Linked DNA regions of Homo sapiens. The protein of the gene in region 1 purifies or fractionates together with the protein of each later gene. This does not show direct contact. Each region holds a gene or a part of one and is shown on either strand. Other genes may lie near its edges.

The links.
Region 2: the proteins of PPP3CC (region 1) and LRRC41 purify together in Homo sapiens (affinity purification with mass spectrometry; 3 studies listed by BioGRID and IntAct, with this or other methods). This does not show direct contact.
Region 3: the proteins of PPP3CC (region 1) and ETV6 purify together in Homo sapiens (co-immunoprecipitation; one large-scale study listed by IntAct). This does not show direct contact.
Region 4: the proteins of PPP3CC (region 1) and DCPH1 fractionate together in Homo sapiens (co-fractionation; one large-scale study listed by BioGRID). This does not show direct contact.
Region 5: the proteins of PPP3CC (region 1) and LBH purify together in Homo sapiens (affinity purification with mass spectrometry; one large-scale study listed by BioGRID and IntAct). This does not show direct contact.
Region 6: the proteins of PPP3CC (region 1) and ARID3B purify together in Homo sapiens (affinity purification with mass spectrometry; 2 studies listed by BioGRID and IntAct, with this or other methods). This does not show direct contact.
Region 7: the proteins of PPP3CC (region 1) and ATOH8 purify together in Homo sapiens (pull-down; one study listed by IntAct). This does not show direct contact.

Annotation. Positions count from the first base shown.
Region 1 is NC_000008.11:22,538,352-22,541,625, reverse strand, and holds the end of PPP3CC (serine/threonine-protein phosphatase 2B catalytic subunit gamma isoform), read right to left. Parts: intron 2,158-3,274; coding exon 2,128-2,157; intron 1,895-2,127; coding exon of another isoform or gene 1,758-1,894; exon of another isoform or gene 1,690-1,757; intron 1,012-1,689; coding exon 824-1,011; 3' UTR 501-823; downstream 1-500. UniProt on the Homo sapiens protein: Calcium-dependent, calmodulin-stimulated protein phosphatase which plays an essential role in the transduction of intracellular Ca(2+)-mediated signals. Dephosphorylates and activates transcription factor NFATC1.
Region 2 is NC_000001.11:46,279,617-46,283,116, reverse strand, and holds part of LRRC41 (leucine-rich repeat-containing protein 41), read left to right. Parts: intron 1-1,731; coding exon 1,732-1,992; intron 1,993-2,556; coding exon 2,557-2,721; intron 2,722-2,826; coding exon 2,827-2,925; intron 2,926-3,500. UniProt on the Homo sapiens protein: Probable substrate recognition component of an ECS (Elongin BC-CUL2/5-SOCS-box protein) E3 ubiquitin ligase complex which mediates the ubiquitination and subsequent proteasomal degradation of target proteins.
Region 3 is NC_000012.12:11,873,174-11,876,673, forward strand, and holds part of ETV6 (transcription factor ETV6), read left to right. Parts: intron 1-3,500. UniProt on the Homo sapiens protein: Transcriptional repressor; binds to the DNA sequence 5'-CCGGAAGT-3'. Plays a role in hematopoiesis and malignant transformation.
Region 4 is NC_000006.12:151,465,966-151,469,465, reverse strand, and holds part of DCPH1 (damage-control phosphatase ARMT1), read right to left. Parts: intron 1,124-3,500; coding exon 356-1,123; 3' UTR 1-355. UniProt on the Homo sapiens protein: Metal-dependent phosphatase that shows phosphatase activity against several substrates, including fructose-1-phosphate and fructose-6-phosphate.
Region 5 is NC_000002.12:30,255,534-30,258,030, reverse strand, and holds part of LBH (protein LBH), read right to left. Parts: intron 599-2,497; coding exon 410-598; 3' UTR 1-409. UniProt on the Homo sapiens protein: Transcriptional activator which may act in mitogen-activated protein kinase signaling pathway.
Region 6 is NC_000015.10:74,589,720-74,593,219, reverse strand, and holds part of ARID3B (AT-rich interactive domain-containing protein 3B), read right to left. Parts: exon of another isoform or gene 3,401-3,500; coding exon 3,217-3,400; exon of another isoform or gene 3,159-3,216; intron 2,765-3,158; exon of another isoform or gene 2,114-2,764; intron 2,070-2,113; coding exon 1,786-2,069; intron 1,661-1,785; coding exon 1,406-1,660; intron 86-1,405; coding exon of another isoform or gene 83-85; coding exon 1-82. UniProt on the Homo sapiens protein: Transcription factor which may be involved in neuroblastoma growth and malignant transformation. Favors nuclear targeting of ARID3A.
Region 7 is NC_000002.12:85,784,991-85,788,436, reverse strand, and holds part of ATOH8 (transcription factor ATOH8), read right to left. Parts: intron 1,553-3,446; coding exon 1,547-1,552; 3' UTR 1-1,546. UniProt on the Homo sapiens protein: Transcription factor that binds a palindromic (canonical) core consensus DNA sequence 5'-CANNTG- 3' known as an E-box element, possibly as a heterodimer with other bHLH proteins.

The DNA.
Region 1 (3,274 bases):
ACTTCCTTTACAGAAGTCACCTGGGGTTCAAAAATGAAAGTAAAATAATCTGGCAATTGTGAAAGCTTTCTGAAAATCTTTCTCCTCCAAAGTCCTAAGGAAATTTAAACCAATCATGCCCATGGTCAGATGAACAGATTTTAAGTAAATCTAAGAACATCCCTTATTATTTTTTATTTTGTTTACTAGAACATATTTAAACGAACTGAGAGTCCAGAGAAAGTAGGTTATTATAGAAAACATTTCCCTTCGCCCTTAAAATCACTGGATTTGGGTTATTCACTTTGAAGTTCTACTATGATCCAGTTTCCCATCAAAAGGGAAGCACTTTTAGCCACTGAAATCTAAGAGGACTTTCTTCAATGGCACCCAGCAGAAAAGGAAAAAAATGAAAAGGAAAAAAATCTTCTTGCATTTGAAACGTTATTAGTCTTACATGAAAGACATTACCTTCCAAAAAACAATAATGAAGACTGACTAGTTCAAGTCAGAAACCCAGGTTTGAGGTTTCCAAGGCCCTTTTATTAGGGGAAGTTCCCCTTTATAGCACAAGACTTCACAAATGTGTTGACAACAATCAGATTCATTTCTTAAAATTATGGAGAAAAAAGGGAAAAACAAAACAGATGCACTTTTTATATATATTGAACATAAATTAAAAGAATTTATAAAACAGCCACCTTTTTACAGAATAAATGCAGACTGAATTATAAATGCACCTCCACGTTGAAGTTGTTTTGAGTTGCTTTTCATTTTCCAATAATAAATAAATAGAATTTGTTCTTGAGTTTTAGATCCACCTGAGCCACGGCAGGACTCTAAGTCATGAATGGGCTTTCTTCCCTTGGTCGCTCCTGTGCGCAGCATGTGAGTGTGCTGAGGTTACAGATTTCATTGGCCCACCAGCGTGTATGCTATCCTTTCGGGGTGGCATTCGCTCATTAATTCGGTCCAGACCTCGCGCTTCTTCAAAACTCCGGATCTTGTGCTGAAGCGAGAACCCTCTGATGGCTACAGAAAAACAGGAAGCAGGTGGAGAGAGCTCAATTAGGCAGCAAAGCAACAGGCTTAAAAAAAGTTTCTTAGCACACAGCAACCTCCTAGAGAAACACACAGAAAGGTGGCTATGGAGCACACGTCTAGTGAAAGTCATGGGCAATGTCTGACTGAATCAGTCTTGGCTGCAGCTACTGCTTCCTTAAAGCCCAAAGGGCAGCTGAAATTGTGAAAGTAATTTTCATAAAAGCTCTATATGCATAATCATGGTAGACATATACCTAACAAAAAGCTAACAAGTACTTACTGGGCCCCAGTACCTTTAAGAAAGAGTGTCTTATGCACCAGAAACATACTCAATGCTAGAACAAAGGCAACACTAGAATAATTGAACAAGTTAAACCCAGGGTAGTTGCTTTTCGCACAAAGGCCACATAGACCACAAAAAAAAGTAACAAAAGAGCTAATCTTTTCGTTTAGGACAGCTTTCTATCTTGCACAACCAGGAGCTGTACATAAGTTAAAAACTTAAAAATAGCTTCTACATATTTTCCTTCCGATTCAACTTTTATAACACCAAGTTAAGGCATTCGCGTTTTGAACCATCTTACCTAATAAAACAATTACAAGTATAATACAAGTTTATCAGTTCCAATGGTTTTCATAGAAACAAAGTTAATTTAACTTGCCTACCTTAGGGCAACCTCAGAAATGAATTGAACTAAATTCCAGTCTACTTCTGCCTCTGCTCTTGAAATCTTTTAGAATCGCTGAAGAGGCTGACCTATTTGGCTCTCTTGAGAATCAAATGGATGTCTCTTGTACATGGAAGGGATACAGAAGTAAACCACTTGACCTCTCATGACCAGTTGCTTAAGCTTCTGCCGTTGCATTAAAGCTGATAGAGCCCAGAAAAAAAACTGTAGCTGTGGTGAAGGTTATTTAAAATTAATGCAAAGATAGGACACAAAGGAAACACCTGCTTCGTTAACATGCCTAGAAACAACTATACCTTTTCTCACTGTTATAGTTCTGGTGATGCAATAATAAAATATTTGAAATGTTGATAAAGCTTCGAAAAACCAGTACACAGACACATGGATCACATCTATCAGAGTAATATGGCCATACCTTCCCGGGCCTCTACCGCTTCTACTGTGGCTGTAAGAGGGCAGGAGCAGTAGCATGCAAAAACGAAGACAGAAAAAGAGTGAGTAAACCAACAGCACTGATGGCAGCACAGCCATCCCAGGGGCCCGTTTTTTAGCCTATCCCCATCCATAATGAAAGTCAACTAGTTAGAGAAGCGAGAAGATTATTGCGAGAGACTCAATTGGGGTGGGAGGAATATGGGGTGGGGGAGAGTTTCTAATATTTTTAACATTTCAGGTGCCATGGAACATTGCTCTTTTCATTTTAGGTAGCCAACTGCTACTTTATATCTTGATATCCACGTATCGAAACAACATGTAGAATCAAATAGTTTGACATCACAACAATCCTTAGTTTGTAAAATATCTCAGGTGATATTAAATGAGCTACTGCTGGGTCCTATTCAAAAAGCTTATTTACAACTACATCTTACTGCTCTCAAGTGACTTATTTGGAGTCCAACTGCCCTATTAATTACTTCATTTAAAAAAAAAAGAGTGGCCTTTGAACAGCAGACTGGCATTTGGAAGGAGAGAAAAATAGGTTCCATGTGAAGGGTTATTTCTTGTCCAGGAGTGGAGTACAAAGCTAACAAAAGCATAGAACTATTGAATTCCTAATGCAAATGTGTGTACCCATCTGCTATAAAAATATAGCAGAGGCTAATGTTTCCAATCCATATGGCTTCCATACAGTGTTCAAGAGAGTTGGCCAGTAACTAAGAAAGCCCTCTTCTTTCTTAGCAATGGAAAAGGAAGCAACTTAAAAATTAGTACCAACAGGTAAACTTCCTTGCATCTCCTTTCTCAGACAGTAAAAACGCTAATATATGAAAAGGTACAGGGTGCCACAAGAAAGATCCTATTAGGAGAACCCTGTCAGTTACTCCAGTACCAATTTGCCAAAAGAAGGCAGTGAAGAATAATGAGCAGTAACAGTTTGCTGCTATTCCCAAGGCTTTATATATCAATATGAGAAGAGAAACTGAAAGAACTACATTAACTACCTAATGGAATGTGAAAAATGGATAACTGAAATCTACTTATGAAGTGCTTTCATTTGTCAACCATAGGCAGGCATGTATTAAATCACTGTCACACCCTCTCTAATCTCCTTAAGTAGAACA
Region 2 (3,500 bases), on another chromosome or scaffold:
CAAACACCCTTCAATGGCTTAATTTTACTTAGTGGTCATTCATATTCTTACTCCTGGTTATCTCTATAGTTGTATCTTTTTTTTTTTTTTTTTTGACAGGGAGTCTCTGTTGTCACCCAGGCTGGAGTGCAATGGTGCAATCTTGGCTTACTGCAACCTCCGCCTCTCGGGTCCAAGCAATTCTACTGACTCAGTAGCTGGGATTACAGGCACATGCCACCATGCCCAGCTAATTTTTGTATTTTTAGTAGAGACGGGGTTTCACTATGTTGGCCAGGCTGGTCTTGGGCTCCCGACCTCAGGTGATCTGCCTACCTCAGCCTCCCAAAGTGCTGGGATTATATAGGTGTGAGCCACCACACCTGGCCTATAGTTGTATCTTGAATGCTTCCCCCCTTCACACTCTCACACCAGCCATTATGAAATTTTTTTGTTCTCCTTCAGGCCTCTACATATGCCAAGTTGCCTCTGCCACAATCATTCTTCCTAAATTTTAGCCTGTCCCCTTTATGTTCTTTAGGACTTAGCTGGAGTGCCTTTACTGATGTAAGCTGGACTAGGTACTCATCCTTTGTAATTTCATAGTACTTTATTCCCCCAGTTCCCATCGCATTATCAAGCTATGTAAGAAAAAAAAGCAATGTGCTGCTCACTAGTGTCTAGCAAAAAACTTGATATTTAGTAGGCACTGGGTAGTTGAATGAATGAACAGGAGCCTGCATAGTCCAAGGAATTATTTGCCTGTGGCATTAAGCAACCAACCTTCCTGGATCCTAGTCCATGCTGTGGGATTTGGTTATCTTTTCCTGCCCCATTCCCACCCATTGATTCTTTTAAGTATCCCAGTTGGGTCACTGTCACTCTCCATAGTTTTTAGGTGCTCCCTATTGCGTCTAGGTTAAACCATCCCTTTGCCTTTCCATAATGTGGCCTCCAGTGCCCTGCCCTCTAGAGCTGTTTCCTGAGCCTCATGTAGCCAAACAAGCAAGCGTCTCATTCATGCCTTGCACTCTCCTAGCTGTGATTTTTTTTTTTTTTTTGAGACAGTCTTGCTTTTTCACCTAAGCCGGAGTGCAGTGGCGTGATCTCAGCTCACTGCAACCTCCGTCTCCTGGGTTCAAGTGATTCTCCTGCCTCAGCCTCCCGAGTAGCTGGGACTACAGGCATGTGCCACCCAGCCCAGCTAATTTCTGTATTTTTAGTAGAGACAGGGTTTCACCATGTTGGCCAGGCTGGTCTGGAACTCCTGGCCTCAAGTGATCTGCCCACCTTGGCCTCCCAAAGTGCTGGGATTACAGGCGTGAGCCACCGCTCCCGGCTAGCTGGGACTCTTGACTATGTCTTCTCCCTCTATCCAAAACTTCCTTCCTTCAAGGCCAGTTTCTTCAGAAAACTACTCAGAACCCAGAAATCCAGAGAACTGCTACTGTCTGTGCCTGTCATTCAGCTAGTAGCCACATGCTGCCTCACCATATTGTATCTTCTCAATTTTGTGACTCTGCCCTGACTGGTGCTTCTTGTGGGCATAACCCAAAACAGCAGACCTCAGTTTGCTGGTTACCTAAGGAAAAAGCAAGACATGGATGAGTAGTTAAGACAAATGGGTTTAAATAAGCTGAGCCAAAGCCCAAGAGATTTGCTAGTAACCAAAAGTATTTGGAGTTGTATTTGAATATATTACCCCTGCTGACACTCCCACATGGTTCTGACTTAATCTCTTTCTTGCCATAGGCCTGGGCTCTAACATCTTCCGCCTGCTAGACAGCCTGCGGGCCCTGTCAGGCCAGGCTGGATGTCGCCTCCGTGCCCTGCATCTCAGTGACCTGTTCTCACCACTGCCCATCCTGGAGCTGACACGTGCTATCGTGCGAGCACTGCCCCTGCTACGGGTCCTCTCTATTCGTGTTGACCACCCAAGCCAGCGGGACAACCCTGGTGTGCCAGGGAATGCAGGGCCCCCTAGCCACATAATAGGCGATGAGGAGATACCAGGTGAAGCACTGTGTGTGTGTTTGTGTGTGTGCACGCACGTGTATCCCCACACAAAGGTGCAGATGCATTCGTATGGGGAAAGGGGAAGGACCTCTTCTATCACTCATTCCTGGCTTATCTGGAACCTATCCCCCCTTTAGAGCCTACCACTAAGATACTCTTGAGCTAGACAGGGCCTAAACCACCATAAGACCAGCAGAGAGTGACCAAGGCAGCTTGGTCTCCAGAAAAGGAAAAGAACTGATCTTTAGACTGGATTAGTTCCCCTGCTGTATGTTCCCTTAGTTCTTGTATGTCTCCTATCCCACCACTCTGCATACTTTATTTGCTTGTGTCTGGGTAGCCTGTCTTCCTGGTCTAAAATTTCTACAAGGGCAAGGACTAAATCTCATATTTAGTGCTCAATTCCTAGAATCTAGCACAGTGCTGACATATGGTAGGCACTCAACGACAAGTGAATGAATAAATAATTTTTTAGATGAATCCCTTAAGAACAGGATGGGACCTGCTATGGGAGTGAGGTAGAGATGGCCAGCTGGAATCTTCTTTCCCCACCATATCCAGAAAACTGCCTGGAGCAGTTGGAGATGGGATTTCCACGGGGAGCCCAGCCAGCCCCACTGCTGTGCTCCGTTCTGAAGGCCTCGGGTTCTCTGCAGCAGCTGTCCCTGGATAGTGCCACCTTTGCCTCTCCCCAGGATTTTGGGCTTGTTTTGCAAACACTCAAAGGTAGGACCCAGCCAGAATGGTGAAGGGAGAGGAGTAGGTGGGGACCTAGCACTGTTCTCTAGGAAAGCTAAGGTCCATGGTCCATGGTCTCTGCCTCCTATCCAGAGTACAACCTAGCCCTGAAAAGACTGAGCTTCCATGACATGAATCTCGCTGACTGTCAGAGCGAGGTGCTCTTTTTGCTACAGAATCTGACTCTGCAAGGTAAGTTCCTTATTCAGAACCTGGACATTTCCTGGGTCTTCACTATGGTTCTGCCATAATCTGAGTGAGCAAACCACTGTTCCTTTCTTGGCCTTGTGTCCTCAGCTATAAAATGGATATAGAACCTGCATGATTTTCCTTCTAAAAGCCCCAACCTCAATTCCTCCTCTACTAAACATGAGAAATCGCTCTTTTAGAGTGCTTCACCCAAAAGTTGCTCTTACCTTTCAGAGGTGGACAAAATGGTGGTGGTGGGGCAAAATAAATGTACTGTGCCAGGCTCCCCTCATAGACTTTTCTCTGATCCCCACCCCCGCATAGAGGGTGGCCAGTGTTAGGGAAAGAAGGAAGTGAATGGAGAATTGTCCATGCAGAGAACCTTCTTATAGGGAACATTTAGGTTCAGTCTTTAGTTTGGATTCTGATTTAGTTCCAGCCTTGCTTGGAGTCTAGACAAATTCCTTCCTCTTTTTGGGCCTCTATAATGTTAATACCCCTTGCTAGGGCCAACTGGGGCAGGAGGGGCAGCACCAGTCCTAATGCAGCCATCAGAATTTACTATAATTTTTCTTGAC
Region 3 (3,500 bases), on another chromosome or scaffold:
CATTGTTTTTCTCCGAAGAAGGTAGGACTGAATCATCCCTAAAGTTCCTTCCAGCTCTGCCAGTCTGTAGTCTGACAGTCTTGATTCTGTAACCCTCCCAAGAAAACACAAGAGTTTTAAGCACCTTTGTTTCTTTGAGGATACCCCTGTGTGTACTCCACTCTTCTGATGTCTTTCTGGACTCCTCGATCCTTGTAAAATTGATTCTGTTTATTGGAGGTGAAATTCATTGGGTGATTCCTGTGTACAACGTAAAAGTTCTGTCATTAACTGAATAGCCATAAAAAGCCTTTAAATCTCCGTAAAGCAGCTGTTAGATGAGAAAACTTAGTTCCTTAAAGCTTTTCAAATGAGCACAGCACAAAAAGAAATGAAGGTGCTGCTGAATGTCAAACTGATGAGTACTATAGCTGGAGGGTATAGATGGAAATAGTACTCATGAATGTGGATCACAAAATGAAGCTAAATTCTTACTATTCAGATATGATTTGTTCAGGTGCCCTAGAATTTATGCATTTGGACACCTTCTGTGTATAAGGCACTGTTCTGCATTCTTGATGGGGTGGGGACAGCCTCAGAGAGGTATAAGACACAGTCTTTATCATGAAAGAGCTGAGCACAGTTAACTATAAAAGCGAAGCACATGACATGTATCTTAGAAGGGCTCCTGTTAAGTACCACAGGAGGTCAGAGTAGGGATGTCAGGGCAAGCTACATGGAGGGCTGGCTTTTAGCTGGGCTTGGATGAATGCTTAGAATGTGGACAAGTGGAGATTAGAGAAAAACAGGTCATTCCAGATGGAGAAAACTTACCAGGAGCAAAGCAAGATAAGGCTCGGTGTATTTTTTCTATTTCAGGTAGAAATGTAAATCTACAAGTTGAGATCTATTGAGGTCATTTAAAAATCTATCATTTTTCAGGCTGGGTACTGTGGCTCACGCCTGTAATCCCAGTACTTTGGAAGGCCAAGGCTGGCAGATCACCTGAGGTCAGGATTTCGAGACCAGCCTGGCCAACATGGTGAAACCCCATCTCTATCAAAAAATACAAAAATTCGTCGGGCATGGTGGTGCACACCTGTAGTCCCAGCTACCGAGGAGGCTGAGGTGGGAGAATCGCTTGAACCTGGAAGGTGGAGGTTGTAATGAGCCAAGATTATGCCACTGCACTCCAGCCTGGGCAACAGAGTGATACTCTGTCTCAAAAAAAAAAAAAATGTGTGTGTATATATATATGTGTGTATATATATACACACACATATATGTATATATATATGCGTATGTATATATACACACACACGTGTATGTGCGTGTGTACACACATATGTGTATGTGCGTGTGTACACACATATATGTGTATGTGCGTGTGTACACACATATATGTGTATGTGCGTGTGTACACATATATGTGTGTATACACATATATGTGTATGTGCGTGTGTACACACATATGTGTATGTGTGTGTGTATATACACATATGTGTGTATATGTATATATGTGTGTATATATGTATATGTGTGTATATATGTATATATGTATATGTGTATATATATGTGTATATATATATGAAATTTTTCATAAATTCTTTTCATTATCTATTATCACTGAAATTCCATCATACCATTAAGATACATGCAGAATTGTTCTCACTCATAGGTGGGAATTGAACAATGAGAACACATGGACACAGGAAGGGGAACATCACACACCGGGTCCTGTTATGGGGTCGGGGGAGGGGGGAGGGATAGCATTAGGAGATATACCTAATGTAAATGACGAGTTAATGGGTGCAGCACACCAACATGGCACATGTATACATATGTAACAAACCTGCACATTGTGCACATGTACCCTAAAACTTAAAGTATAATTAAAAAAAAAAGATACATGCAAATTTATGTCTGTTAGGTATTTACCATATGGAAAAACTAAAATAATCAAGAAAGGAAATTCAGTAGGTGGTTGACAGTTTAAATACAAATCACAAATGACATCTTTTTAAATATAACAAGTAGCTTATTTTTAAAGGTGTCACTTACTTTGCAAAGGATAAGGAGAACTGTTATTAAGAATTTACCAGGTTGGAATGGCTAGTGTTTATGGGAGAGAGTTTAGCACAAGACGGAGTGAGACAAGATTGCTGGGGTCTTATTTTGAATCCAGCAGCCAACGCTGTATGGAATAGTGAAAAAGTTGCCTCTTTCTGTGCTTGTTTTCTACTTGGTATCTTTAAGAATGGGCTATTTAGGAGCAAGGAGCCTAGCAGAAAGCATCTGTCAATCTTCTAAAACTTTACCTACAAAAGTTTTACTGGCTTGTGTCCCACCAGTGTGTTTCAAAGCCAGAAAGTATATTGGCCACAAGCACCTGTAGGTGGCTGAGGTGTGACTGTAGTCATCCGTGAGTCATGTTTTCAGTATGTATTGAAATTCCTTATTTGGACTTGATTTCAAAGGTAGAAGGGCCTTTTACAGGTGAAGGAACTGAGATTGAGACACATCAAGAGTCTAGCCTCGAGCTTCTGTTCAGTGTTTTTCCCAAAATTATTGTTTCCTTCTGGTCTGGGACTCTAGAGCAAAGATTGAAAACTGTGGCCCAAAGTGTGAGCCAAATCCAGCCACCATGCGTTTTTTTTAAATCAAGTTTTCCTGGAAAACAGCCAAACCCATTTATTTGGTATTGCCTATGTCTGCTTCCATGCTGCAGTGGCAGAGTTGAGTAGTTACAACAGAGATTGCATGGCCAGCAACACCTAAAACATTTATTAGTTGGCCCTTTACAGAAAACGTTTGATGCTCTCTGCCTTGCAACATTGTGTACGTGGTGGTCAGTGTGCTTGGAATCATAGGTGCAATGTAGGATGCAGACTTAGAAAACAGTGCCCTTGCTCCCAAGGAATTATTTGCACTTTAGATGACAAGGCATGTTTGAGACATGTGAAAGGAACAATAACAAGTTATGTAAGAGAGGAGACAGGTTCTGGACTGCAGGCTATATTTTCAGACCAACCAGAATAGTTACGATAATATCATTAACATAAATAAAATACTAAGTATTTAGCTACGTAAAAGAAACGATTTATTTGCACTTTGGATTATACAGTTCTTCATTCATTGATTCAAAAATTATTGCCAGTCTGCTCATGTGCCAGGCATTGTTCTAGATGATAGGGCACTGCATCTCTAAATGCCAAATTTCGTATCCTTGCTGGTGGAAGGCAATGTCCTCTTGCTTTATGCCATGACACAAACTAAGCTCCTGCTTTAACTATAGACAGCTAAATCTTAAACGAACACTTTTCAGTCAGTTTAGTTTTCTCTTAAAGTACTTTAATTCCGTTAAAACCTGAGCCACCAGATTTCCTGTCTGCCTGTCTCTTCCTTGGCCTTAATCCAAAACTCTGCTGAGGAAGAAGATTCGTTGGTACACTGACAATTGTTTTATAATCCATTCATTTCATAACCCCTCATTTGCTACCCAAAAGTGGGGACCTAAATCT
Region 4 (3,500 bases), on another chromosome or scaffold:
AGAACAAGGTTAACTAACTAAAAGCAGAACTCACTTATTTTTTGCTCCCTAGCCAATTAAAAATAAGTTCATTAAAAGCACTTGAAATTATATATTTAACCTGAAAAAAAGTTGCTAAAATTCCAATATAAATGTAAATATCTTTAACTTGCTTAACCCAGCTATCCCCAAAACAGTGTAGTGGGGCAAAATGTTCAAAAGAAAAATCATCCAGTGCACGTAGATGGGCACCAAGAAGCTAAGCTTCCCTGAGCGCGTACAGAGCCGCCAGGCGACTCAATTCACGTGCTCCTTTTCTGGGGATGAAAAGGTGCTCACCAGATCTTTCTATGCAACTGAGAGCTCCTAAATCAAGTCAAAGGGGACCATCGTACTGAAATATTCCATATTTTCCAGTGGTCCACCAGCTGGGCTCAGAGGCCAGGAGCTGTTCCCCTTGCCCAGGCTGCAGACCAACCTGAATTTCAGCTTTTAATGTTCTTATGGTACAGAGTGGTGCAGGATGGAAGCCATTCAGAGCCTGATGAAATGGAACAGAAAACTCCCATTTTCTGTCACCTGTCAACTTCCTGTAATTCAAATCACCCTTGAATAAAATTAAATGTGCCTTCTGTAGTTCAGCATATAAGTCAGGTGCAACCTGAGGCATTGCACAGTACTCATGAGGCAGAGTCCAAAATATATGATTGTGGTAAACCCATTTACCCATTTTAATATACTCTTCCCAGTCAGCCCCACACTTGGACATCCACTTATGATTACTGTGTTTTACCTGTTCAATTAACCAATTAAAATCATGTATAGTAGTATCAGAAACAAACCATGGAATTGTTTTTCCATAAAAATGAACCTCAGTAGCCAGTTCAGAGGACAACAAGAAGTCGGCTAATATTAAATCTGTAACAAGCTCAAATCCAGAATTATCGAGAACAATATACACTCTAGTAGCAGAAGCTTTTTCTCTTGTTTTCTTGCAATTGCTAAGCAATGACCAAAGATGTTCCATATCATTCAATAAAATGAAAGGTTTTAGGTCTTCCAATGAATTTAGTACATTGGTATTCTGAGAACTACTTTCTCCACCTGAGAGAGACAGATCACACTTATTTCCCCACAGTGAAATCTGAAAAAGAAAAAGTACAAAATATTCACCCTTCTTCTGAATAGCCAACAAAACTCCATTATGTAGCGGGATGGGGGGACATTGCTAAAAAACTACTAAATATCTACAAAACTCTTTACATGACCATCAAATCTATACTTTCTCTAACAATGCACAAAAATTATTTCACATGATGCTGTATTAACAAGATAAAACTGAAATTTTTAATTCATCAGTATGTAATGGACTTAAAAAAACTGGTTTCAATTATTTCAGCACTCACATTGTTTATTCAGAATAAAAGTTTTTGCAGCTTGCAGATATTAGAACATCATCGGATGTGTGAAGAGAGGCTCAAAGTTGCCCATATAATCCAGAGTCAAGAGAAGAAATAAAAGTTTATTTTTTCCTCCTTGGCCCTGCAGAACTGTCCAGTTTCTTTCACTAATTGCATAACCTTAGGACGTGACACCTCTCTGGGATTTGGTTCTCTCATTTGTAAAATTTAAAAAACTGAACAAAGTGATATCTAAAGACGCTACTTTTTAAACAAGGTCATGTTAACTAAAGACCCATTGTAATCAATTATCTTATTCAGCTTTAAATTGAATTAATACTCAATTACATTTTGTAGAAAAACAGTATGTAGGCCTATTTTTTTTTAAGCCATAAAATTACACGTTTAGGACTTCCAGCTCGACCTGGGTTCAAACTCAGCATCTTCAGTTTATGATCATCAACAAATTACTTAAGCTCTCTAAGGCTCAAGTCCTGCAACTGAAAAACGAGATACTAGTACTTACCTCACAGAATTATTGTGAGAATTGATATAATGCATGTAAATAATGTACCAAATACCTGGCATATAGAAGTACTCAATAAACACTAGCCAAAACAGACTCTACTCTCATTTGTGATTTTTTTTTTAATAAAGATGGGGTCTCACTATGTTGACCAGGCTAATTTCCATCTCCTGGCCTCCAGCAATCCTCCTGCCGTGGCCTCCCAAAATGCTGAGATTATAAGCATGAGCCACCTTGTCAGGCCCTCATTTGTGATTTAAAATAAGGAGAATGCATGTTCCAACCAATAGGGTTTTGTTTTTTTTTTTTTTGAGATAGAGTCTCCTCTGTCACCGAGGCTGGAGTGCGGTGGTGCGATCTTGGCTCACTGCACCTCTGCCTCACGGGTTCAAGCTTTTCTCCTGCCTCAGCCTCCCAAGTAGCTGGGATTACAGCCGCCCACCACCACGCCTGGCTAATTTTTTGTATTTTTAGTAGAGATGGGGTTTTACCATGTTAGCCAGGCTGGTCTCAAACTCCTGGCCTCAGGTGATCTGCCCACCTCGGCCTCCCAGAGTGCTGGGATTACAGGTGTGAGCCACCATGCCCGGCCGAACAGTATTATTTTAAAAAGAGATAAATGAATAAATTTTTTTTAAAAAAAAGGCTTAAATAATAACTAAAGTGTCCAAGGTCACCTTTTTCTAGAGTTTCCTGAAGAAATTCATACAATGGTGTCCACGATGGCCTTCAGCGACTGAGAGCAGGTTCTGTGCTAGCCTCCTGCACTTTCCCTTCACACCGTCTTCCAGTTTGTAATGGCATAGCTCTTTGTGCAATTACTTCATTGTCTATATTCCCTCAAGATTACAAGTTTTGATAGGGAGGATCAGCCTGTTCTTGTTTTACCACTACGTGCCCAGCACCTAGAATGGCATTTGACACAGTAGCCCCAGAAATGTGTGTGTCGACAGTGGGAGAGTGCTATGACTTTTGAAAGAGATCAACATTCTCTGAAAACGAGAATGTTTTCAAGCTTCCCTTGAAACGTTAACCTGTTGCTCACTGCGGACACCAAATGGAGGCAACTCTGGCCCCCTTCACTTGGGAGCACAGTGACAGTGTGAAGAAGTTGTTAGCTAAATCAGATGACAGAAAATAGATGCATGCTCATTCTTCTTCATAGTTTATTATACTATGGGACAAAGAACACATTCAAAGAAGATGATTCCCTGAAAGAATGGGCTAGCTAGGAGTCAAGAACTAGCATGCCAGTCTTTTTTTTTTTAATTCCAAGGCTAAGCATAAGGCAGAGTTAACAGGAAAAAACAAAAAACAAGGTTTATTAGTTAACAATGTCCTGGGCCAGGCAAGGTGGCTCATGCCTATAATCCCAGCACTTTGGGAGGCCAAGGTGGGCAGATCACCTGAGGTCAGGAGTTCAAGACCAGCCTGGCCAACATGGCGAAACCCAGTCTCTACTAAAAATACAAAAATTAGCCAGGTGTGGTGGCATACGCCTGTAATTCCAGCTACTCAGGAGGCTGAGGCAGGAGAATTGCTTAAACCCGGGAGACGGAGGTTGCAGTGAGCTGAGATCGTGCCACTGCACTACA
Region 5 (2,497 bases), on another chromosome or scaffold:
TGTTTTCTTACCCCAAATGTTCCTTGCTTGCTTTGCACATGCCCCACCTCCCACCCACCAAGACCCATTGGAATCCCACCACTGCCTCTACTAGGCTGCCTGAGTTCAGATAATGATCTCAAAAACAGCACTCGCTCCCCTCACCCACTAACCCCCTGGCTCTAAGCAGCTTCCTTTCTCAGAGGGCCTTGCAAATTGTCAGAGGGCTCCACTGCTCGGCAAATTTCAAAAAAAAAAAAAGGCAAGAAAAGAAAAGAAAACCAACTCGGTGATCTGCAGGTGCAAAACAGAAGCCTCGTTTGACATTTTCAGAACAATTGCGGCTCACTCTCTTCTTCCGTCATGATGGGAAAAACACAGTTCAGGAACAGATGCTGGCTGGTATGACCCATGGGAGTCCACAGGGACTCTACTGCTCTTTATTTTCTTTCGCTGTCTCTTCGCAGTTATCTTGCTCATCCTCCTGGACCAGGAACTCCTCAGGGGGCCACCGGAGCTCCCCGCTCTCCACCTCCCCTTCTGTGGGTTCCACCACTATGGAGGGCAGACGGTCCTTCAGTTTGCAGCAGCGGTCAAAATCTGACGGGTCTGGGAAGATCTGAAAGAAAAGCAGAGCAGGTGCCTGGTCACGTAGATATTTGAAAAGAGAAATTCCATTCCTTCTTTGCACATCCATGTGGCATACTGGGTGCATGCCATAGGCCAGGGACTGTGCTTTGCACTCGGGAGGCTGTGGAGTATATAAGGTGGGAGCCACGGGAGAATATTCTGGGGCAACATAGGAAACTGTCCCTCAGTCAGACTTCCATTCCAATCCTGAAGCTGAAAGTTTGGGGGCAGTGCCGCTGAGTTTAAAGGTTGATGTGATTCTGTTTGGATTCTGTATTTTATTTGCAGATAAAATCATCCCAAATCATGTTATCCACAGTAAGTCTGGTCTCTCTCTGCAGGAAGTATTTTACTCCAGCAGTACAAAGAATACAACAGGTGCCACAGCATTAAGTACCTCCCGGAATAATTATTGGCACTAAGTGAGCAGGTTACCAGGTGCTATACATATATCACTTCCAACCCACACAGTCATGCTGAAAAACAGGTGTTGCTAATGCTAGCTTAAAGAATCTCAGGCTTGGGAGAGTAGGTGGTCCAAGACCAGACAGCCTAGAAATGAGTGAGGGATGGGATGAGATTGAAAACTGGGTCTGGGCTGGGCCTGGTGGCTCACACCTGTAATCCCAGTGCTTTCGGATGCTGAGGCAGGTGGATCACGAGGTCAGGAGATCGAGACCATCCTGGCTAACATGGTGAAACCTCTCATATGGTAAACTACTAAAAATACAAAAAAAATTAGGCGGGCATGGTGGTGGGCGCCTGTATTCCCAGCTACTCCGGAGACTGAGGCAGAAAATGGTGTGAACCCGGGAGGCGGAGCTTGTGGTGAGCCGAGATCACGCCACTGGACTCCAGTCTGGGCGACAGAGCGAGACTCCATCTTGAAAATAAAAAAAAACAAAAACTGGATATGTTCGATTCCCCTGCCCCAACACCAGCTTGTCCCTCAAGCAGATGGGTCCTCATCCCATTGCAACTGTAAAGTCAAAGCCAAATCCTGATGAACGGCATGGTCCCCAGTCACAGGCAGGCTGGGAACAAAATCCAAGGATCCTTTTTCACCTGTGAACAGTTCCTGGCTTCTTGCCAGCTCTACACCTGAAGGAGTCTACTTCTTTTTCCAGAGTCCCGTCAGCCAGGCTTTGTTTTTTAATGCCTACTTTGTGTCCTGCCCAGAGCTGGCAGAAACTCCAAACCCAGCTATAAAATCAGGGCCAAATCTGGCTCTGCGGATTCCCTTTGCATACACTGCCCTGTGACTACAGCTGACCCAATTCTTGGCCCAGCAGTTTAAGTACTTAATCCGCTGGGCTGCTGGTCCCTGCCATTCACAGCCCTCAGTGACACACCCCAGAGCTAGAGAGAGAAGCCTCTGTCTGGGATGCTGGGCTCCCAGAATCAGGCACTTGGCACCTTCATGGCCATCTCTTCCCACCTCTCCATTTGGTAGATGAGCAACTCAAGGCCCCAGAGGGGTCAGGAGACCTGCCTAAGGTCACACAGCTTGTTCATGGCACAAGAAAGGAAAGCAAAACTTTGAGTGGGTGGAGACACATTTGAAGAGATCTGGGGGGCTGCCTGGTCCTGCCTGCACCTTGATCCAGATGGGGACAGGCCCACGGCAGCAGACAGGAGTCACCCATTACCAGGACATAGAAGAAAGGCCCTTTTACAAACTCAGGCCTTCCCAACTTCTGTGGTGCTCTGAGGATACCCGGTCTTATTGCAACCCAACCCCATGCAGTGCTGCCCCAGCCAAGTCACACTCTCACCACATCACAGGCCACGTGGGGCTTCCAGGAATCACAGGCCTCAGTGAAGCCTTCCCAATACCTGCAAACGAGTGATTATTAACCATTTATCCAATAAGACCTATTGCTGGGGA
Region 6 (3,500 bases), on another chromosome or scaffold:
TCGATGTCCACAGACATGTTAATGCTCCCAATGCTACTCGTGGTCAGGTTCAGTGCTGCAGCCGAGGCCTCTGCTCTGTCTTCTGCTGGGGACAGGGAGACAGTGGGCCTGGTCAAGCCTTCCACAGCACTCCTGTTGTCCTCTCTGATGCTGCCTGGCCACCCCTGGTCAAAGCCTCACGCTGTTAAAAGGCATCTATGTAACCTTCTCCTGAGTGTAGGGTATGGCAGGAGATCCCAGGCTCGCCAATCTCCTGTTGCTGGCTTTTTCCACTGACCCAGTTCATCCCCTCAACTACCTCTGCTCCCAGAGAAAAGGAATCACAGTAGGCAAGGAGGCCGGCTCCGGCCCCACCACTCTGCACTGGCACTTTCCAAGTGACGGGCAAACCCTGAACTACACTATACACCAGGCCCAGGAAATCAGAGATCAATGAGACCCAGCCCCAACTTTGAGGACCCACCTGCCCTTTCTTTCCTTTGACTCTGAGTCCCTCAGAGAGAGGAGTCTACGCCCTCAGCCCCTCCCCTCCATGACCACCCAGGCAGCTGGCGTTTGTGGAAGCCTGCAAGTGCTGGCACACACGGCCTTTGGCTGGCTCACCCCAGACTCAGAATTCTTCCCGGTGAGCTGTCTTTTCTAACAGCCCTTTGCTTTGTGCAGGAGCAGGGTACCTGGCCCTGGATGAGCTGTTACCTCCCAGTTTCCTTCTGGTCCCCAAGGGCAATGGGGTAGGAGGGGCAGCCTGGGAATATGTATAGCTCCCTTCACACCTGGCTCCTTCCCACACATCTCATTCATGTTTGCTTTGAGATAGCATCAGGACCAGAATGGGAAAGAATGTGTGTGAATGGGAAAAGGGGCGTGTGGCTTGAGGAAGAGAATGTGGGGCACCAGAACAATGTGAAGAGGAAGGGAAAGGATGTCAATTATGCTGCCAAACTTGTGTTTCCTCCTTCTGTCTATATTCCTGAGTCCCACTGTCCAGCCCGGGGCAACTTGGCCCCTCGCTGAGCCTCAGGAACATGGGGTGTCTTCCTCCCAGACCTGCAGACGGTGCCCTGCTCTTGCCTACATCCAGTGAGGTGCTGGGGTAATGGCTGGTGGGGAAACGCAGCAGCTCTCTGAAGGCCTCTGGCTCCTCCTCTGTGAATAACTGCTTTTCCCTCTTACTAGAGAACAGGGCACTGCCTGAGGCAACATGTGGTCCCCTCTACCAAACAACCTCAGCTTGGTGAACTAAGATCTCAGTGCCTCTCTTCTAGGGGCCTGGAAGGCAGAACCTGGAGGGGCCTCTTCCAGGTCAGGAGTATGTGCCTCACCACCCCTGCCCCACCAGTCCCAGGAGGCGTGAATGGGCTTGGGGTTTCCAGGAAGGGAAGGCCCGGCCCTGAGCCTGGCTCACCCCTGCCGTTGATCCTGATCTTCATGGGGAGCTGCCGTGCCATGCTGAAAAAGTTGCGCTGGAAGGCCTGCTGCACCAGGCGCTGCTCCTCCTCAGACAGCCTCGATGCCTTCTTCTCAGCAGGCTCCCCTGACTCCAGCCGCTCCCGCAGCTGCTCCAGTGCGGCGGTCCGAGTACCAGCCTGCTGGCTTGCCAAGGTCACGGGCACAGCCAGACGATTTGGCACAGGCACTGTTGTCACTGGGGCTCCATCACCTGCAAAGGAACTGGAGCTGGACCAATCCACAATTGACCCTCTTGCCCCAAAACCCCAGTCTTGAACACAGGGAACTGGCATCCCTTCCTCCCTTTCTTCCTTCTCCCCCAGGAGCCCTGCTGACCTTTCCTGAGAGTGGTTGCTGGGGATATCCGAGGGCTACTGGTATTGGTACCACTGCTGGAGCCAAGCCCAAGGATGGGAAAGCGGATCTTGGGTGGGGAGAGAAGGGCAGGGGCCCCGGCAGCGGCAGCAGCAGTAGCCGCAGCAGGTGAGTAGCCAAAGAGGGAGGAGCTGTAGCTGGGCCGCCGGCCCTCCCTGCGGTTGCCATCAATTGCTGCCTGGAGCTCGGCTGGGGAACTCAAGGCTTTCTTCTCACACTCATAGGCATACAGATACTTCATGTACCTGGAGGAAAGGAAGCAAGCAGGGAGAATAATCCAAAACAGCACCAGAGACCACCCAGTTGAGGTTGGTGGGTCTCTGGAAGCAGTCTCTGTTGGGCAGGACTCTAGGGCAAAGGATTGCAACCTTGGTATACTTGGCAGAAAAGTCTGGGATGGCCGGACACTCTGCCCCAGCCTCCTCTGACTGCCACTCAATCCTAAATAGGCTCTACTTTGAAGCACCATTCATTAGGGGAAATAAATAACATCTTAGTTGGCGTTTTCACATTTGTTTTGAAGCCCTGGGAAAAATTAGGCCCATGTTTTACAAGGGCTTTCTGACTTCTTGATCTTATAACCATTCAGAGCTGGGCTAGTCAGATAGGAGCAATTCTTCCCATTGTGCATGGGACCTAGACACTGTCATTCTTTGTGTCTTAGGTCCCAAGAAGCAGTTCTCTACCCAAGAACCTTGCCATTCTGGTTGTAGCTACAACATGCTACCTAACTGATGTCAGTTGTTCATTGCATACTCTTCACAGAACAACTTCCAGAGTGTTCCAGAAGAAAAGATTCCTCTCTGGCCCTCATTCTTCAGTGCTACTATTGGTTTCACCGCTTCCATCACCCATGTAATTAACTCAAATGCTGACAAAACCAGGTCACCAATCCAAGGGGGCCTTCCTGCCTGCCTTTCTCTGGGTCCTCTGCCGCTGGGTAAGCTGAATATCAGGTAAGAGGGGCCACTTGGGGTGGAGATGCTGTTTGGAAGACAATGTCCTGGAAGGGGCACAGGTCTTAGAGACAGAAGCCCAGGTCTGAATCTCAGCTCTACCACTTACTGGCTGGTATATGACCTTAGCCAAATTATTTAACCATGGAGACTTCATTTTTGTAATGTGGGAAATGGGGGCATACCTACTTTACAGGGTTGACTGTGAGGTTTAAATGAAATAGTAAAGTACCAGCACAGAGTAGACACTTGGTAAATGGTGGTTCTCATCACTACTTGGTTTAGTGAGGGATTCATCTCAGAAAGCTCCCCACTGTTTCGGGAATCCACTCATCTTGCTAACCATACAAAGGAATTTCCTTCCTTCCTCTCCTCTAGGTTACAACATCCCCTTTCTCCAGCCTCAGCTTCCTTCTCCCAGGCCCTGGCCACTCACTGCGTCCTGAGGGTGAAGGCGGCGCTGGTGATGGATGTGGGCAGGTTTAGGCCTTTGGTGATCTCCCTCCAGATCTTCTTGTTGATGATCTCCACCAGGCCTCCCTTCTCGGTCACCAGCTTATACAGCATGTACAGGTCCAGGATCTGTTTGGCCATGATGGGGATTCGGTTGATGGGGGTCCCTGTGGTTGTCCAACGAGAGAAAGAGACAGCGGGATCATCATCAGGCTGAGAAGAAAGATTCCGTGTATGCCCACCTTTAGCCGAGCTGGAAACAATGCT
Region 7 (3,446 bases), on another chromosome or scaffold:
TGATTCGATGACTGGCTCTGTCACCGACTGACCCTGTCTACTTGAGGCCTCAGTTACCCCATCTGTGAAACGGGGTTAATAATAGGGGCCCCTATCTCATAAATCCATGGTACAGATTGAGTGCAGTGCGGACAGAGAGGGCTCCTCATGTGTTCCTGACCAGGCCTCCTGGTCACTAGTCCAGGCTGAGACTACTGTGGGAACCGCCCTCCACCCCCTTCCACACACAGACACACACACTCTCACTCGGACAGCGCCTGATCCTGAAGGGCTCTCAACCTGTAGGTAGAAACCAACCCCCTCCCTCACACTCCCCAGCTGATGACCGGCCAAAGTCCTGGTCACCCACAGAGTCCACTCAACACAAGTATTTTCTTGACATTTTGGGGCTTTTACTTCAATTTGAAGCAGATGGTTGAGCACAGACGTGAACAGCTTTGGCCATTTGAGCACAAGGAAGGGGCGGGCCTTGGCTTTGAACACGCAGGCCCCATCCTCCACATACTGGCCCAGTCCCCTGGTCCCTTCCTTCTCTGCCCCTGCACACCCTGTAACAGACCACCGCCCTCCAAGTGGGGCGCCATCTTGCCCAGTAGGACGGCTCCAGCCAACCCAGCCTCTACTCCTTCCTCAGGCCACGTGCAGGCTGAACAAGAGAAAAACTCTTTTTCTGTCCATGGCAGGGCCTGCCCATGGTGCTGGCTGCCTGGGACGGGGGCCCATGGGGGTGGGTCACAGTGAGGAGAGGCTGGCTGGGGAAGCAAAGACCCATAGGTAGCTGCCCTGGGGCAAGTCCCTGGTGTAGGGGAGGGAGTAATATTGCTTCTCTCCCTGCTTACTCCCTTCTGGTGATGCTTAGGGCCCAAGGAGCCTGGACCCAAGGGACACTGAGAACTGGGGCCAGTGGCCTGGGCAGCCAATGAAGGGGAGAGAGTGGGCAGGGATCTCAGGTCCCACTCCCAGCCCCGCCCAGGCACCCCAGCCTCCCTCTCACAGCCCCTAAGGCTTGTCTTGCACTCAGCCAGCACAAGGCCCAGTGGAGAGAGAGCACCAGGTCAGAGGGCCAAGATGACCCCCAGGGGTCATCAAATGCCCATCCATTCCATGAGTTCCTAGCAGAACCACTGACTCATCTTTGGCTTGAGATGGGGCTCAGGCAACAGGAGGAGCAAAAGTCACAGAGCAACGGTGTGGCTTTTCGCTGTGGGGTTTCACCACCCCATTTCCTTCGGTGTCTCTGTCCAATCTTTGGCAACGAATTTCTGCAGCTGGACAGTGGGCCTTGGGGTCTGAGTGAGTCGGGGGCTGAGCTCTCCCCTCCCCACCAGGCAGAGGGCAAAGTGCGAAGCAGCCTCGGATTGGCTGGGTGAGGGCGGAGGGGAGAGGGAGGCAGGCGTGCTCCGATCCGACCCTGAGAGGCTGTAGGCTGGGCATCTGGCGGCATCTTGGAGAAGACCACGAGGCTGGACTCAGCGAGCTCACCTTGTCCTCAGGCCTGACTGGAAGGAGGGCCCACAGTGGTGGCCTTGGTCTTGCCTGCAGCCAGTCACTCCTGAAAGACATGACCAGCCATTAAAAGCTGCCCCTGCTCCACCTGGTTCCTGTTTCTGGACAGCTGCAGAATGTCCCTTCACTGAGTCCTCCAGGCAGAGGGGCCCCCACCTTGAAGGGTTCGATAAGTGGAAGAGCCAGGATTCAAACCCCGGCCTGGCTGCCTCCAGAGCCCACACTGTCCCCCTGTTCCTTAGTGCTGCATTTCAGAGGCCCTGCGTTTTGGTTGGTTTGGGGAAAGAAGAGGACCACAGTGGGTAGTGGGAGCCAGGGCCGCTGGAAGCTCGGGGACACCTGGGGCTGACACCACAATCCCCAGGGCCACCCCTCTGAGGGATCTCAGAGGCCCGTCCCCACCCTGGGGTGGCAGGCTCCTCTGCAGGCTCAGTCCCACTGGAATGGCCATCTGCAGCTTCCTTGCGCTGCCCTAGGAGTCACAAGGCCCACTCTAGTTGTAGCACATTCACCTGCCAGCTGGGTGACCTAAAACAAGTCATTTGACTTCTCTAGGCCTCAGTGTCCTCATCTGTAAAATGGCGTGGCTGGAGCAGATCGATGAAAGCTCCTTTTAAGCAGGAGAATGAAGTACATGGAACACTAACACAGAAAACATGTGTCTGTCTATTTGATTGCAGTGGAGTCAGGGGACACAGAGGAAGGGGGACCCAGAGACCTATTGCATTCCTTCCAACAGAGAGCCTGGGACATGTCTGAGAATCAGGGTGCTAAGGAGCACAGTTCGAAAATTGCTGGGTTAGACCACCTTTAAGTTCCCTGCAGCCCTGATCTGTGCAATCCTCATTCTGGCAGCTGAACTTGGCGCTCTGAGCAGACGGTGTAACTGGCTACCAGGAAGGGATGGGACAGGGGGCAAGGTCATGGGGCCTGTGGGGTTTTAGCTCTCTGGGGAGGTCAGAGCCGGTGGGGAGGCTCTGTGAGACCTCCAGATCCACCCAGGATGAAAAATAACAAAGTCCCTGAACCTGGTACAACATAACCCTCTTAAAGCAACTCCAAACACCCTTTTGATTCGTGCTCCAACCCTCAACCAACAGCTATTAATAAGTAGTTATTTTTAAAGCAAAACATCTGTCAGGCACCTCCGACCTGCCAGGGAGCATTCCCATTCCCCCCTCTCATGAGTGAGCAATCCCAGGCTCCGAGAAGGAAGTGCTAGAAGTTGCCAGTGCCAGGATTTGAATCCAGATCGGCAGTGTTCATTCTACCACACAGAGGCTGCTCTCACTGAGACAGAGGCTTGGGGAGCCAGGATGGAGCCAAACCACGACGTGGAGGGCCTGCTAACCACAGGCCCTGGTGAGCCCCGTGGGCCGGGGCAGCCAGCCAAGACGCAAGTCTGGGGCAAGGCTGAAGTGGGGTCCAAGGAGGGCGAGGGAGCCGGGCCAGAGGGAGGGAGTGCTCTCCAGCTAATAGTGGCTCAGGAGGGAGAAAAGGAAAAGTGAGAGGCGGGAGCATCTTGATGTGGTAAATCCCAGGCTCACATTCTCCAAGCCCACTGTGCATGGCTGGCCCCAGCAGGAATCTGCTTTGTGTTACCGAGTCTGAGGAGGAGGATTAAGAAGCGGAAAGGAAACCCGTGGGGATGGCACTGGGTCTGTGGTCCACGGGGTGATTTACAGCTCGCGTCATCCCGGCGCTGGCTGCCTGGGCGGGCCCTGCCATGGGCAGAAAAGGTTTTTCTCTTGTTCAGCCTGCCCGTGGCCTGAGGAAGAAGGGGAGGCTGGGTTGGCTGGAGCCGTCCTCCTGGGCATGCTGTAAAGGCGGTCAGGGCAGCCTGGGGCCAGCCCCAAGCCGTCTGTTGGCTCTTAGTCCCCGCTGAAGCCACAGCTACCATCCAGGATTAAAGGAGACAGGGGTTTCTCTCACCAAGGCCT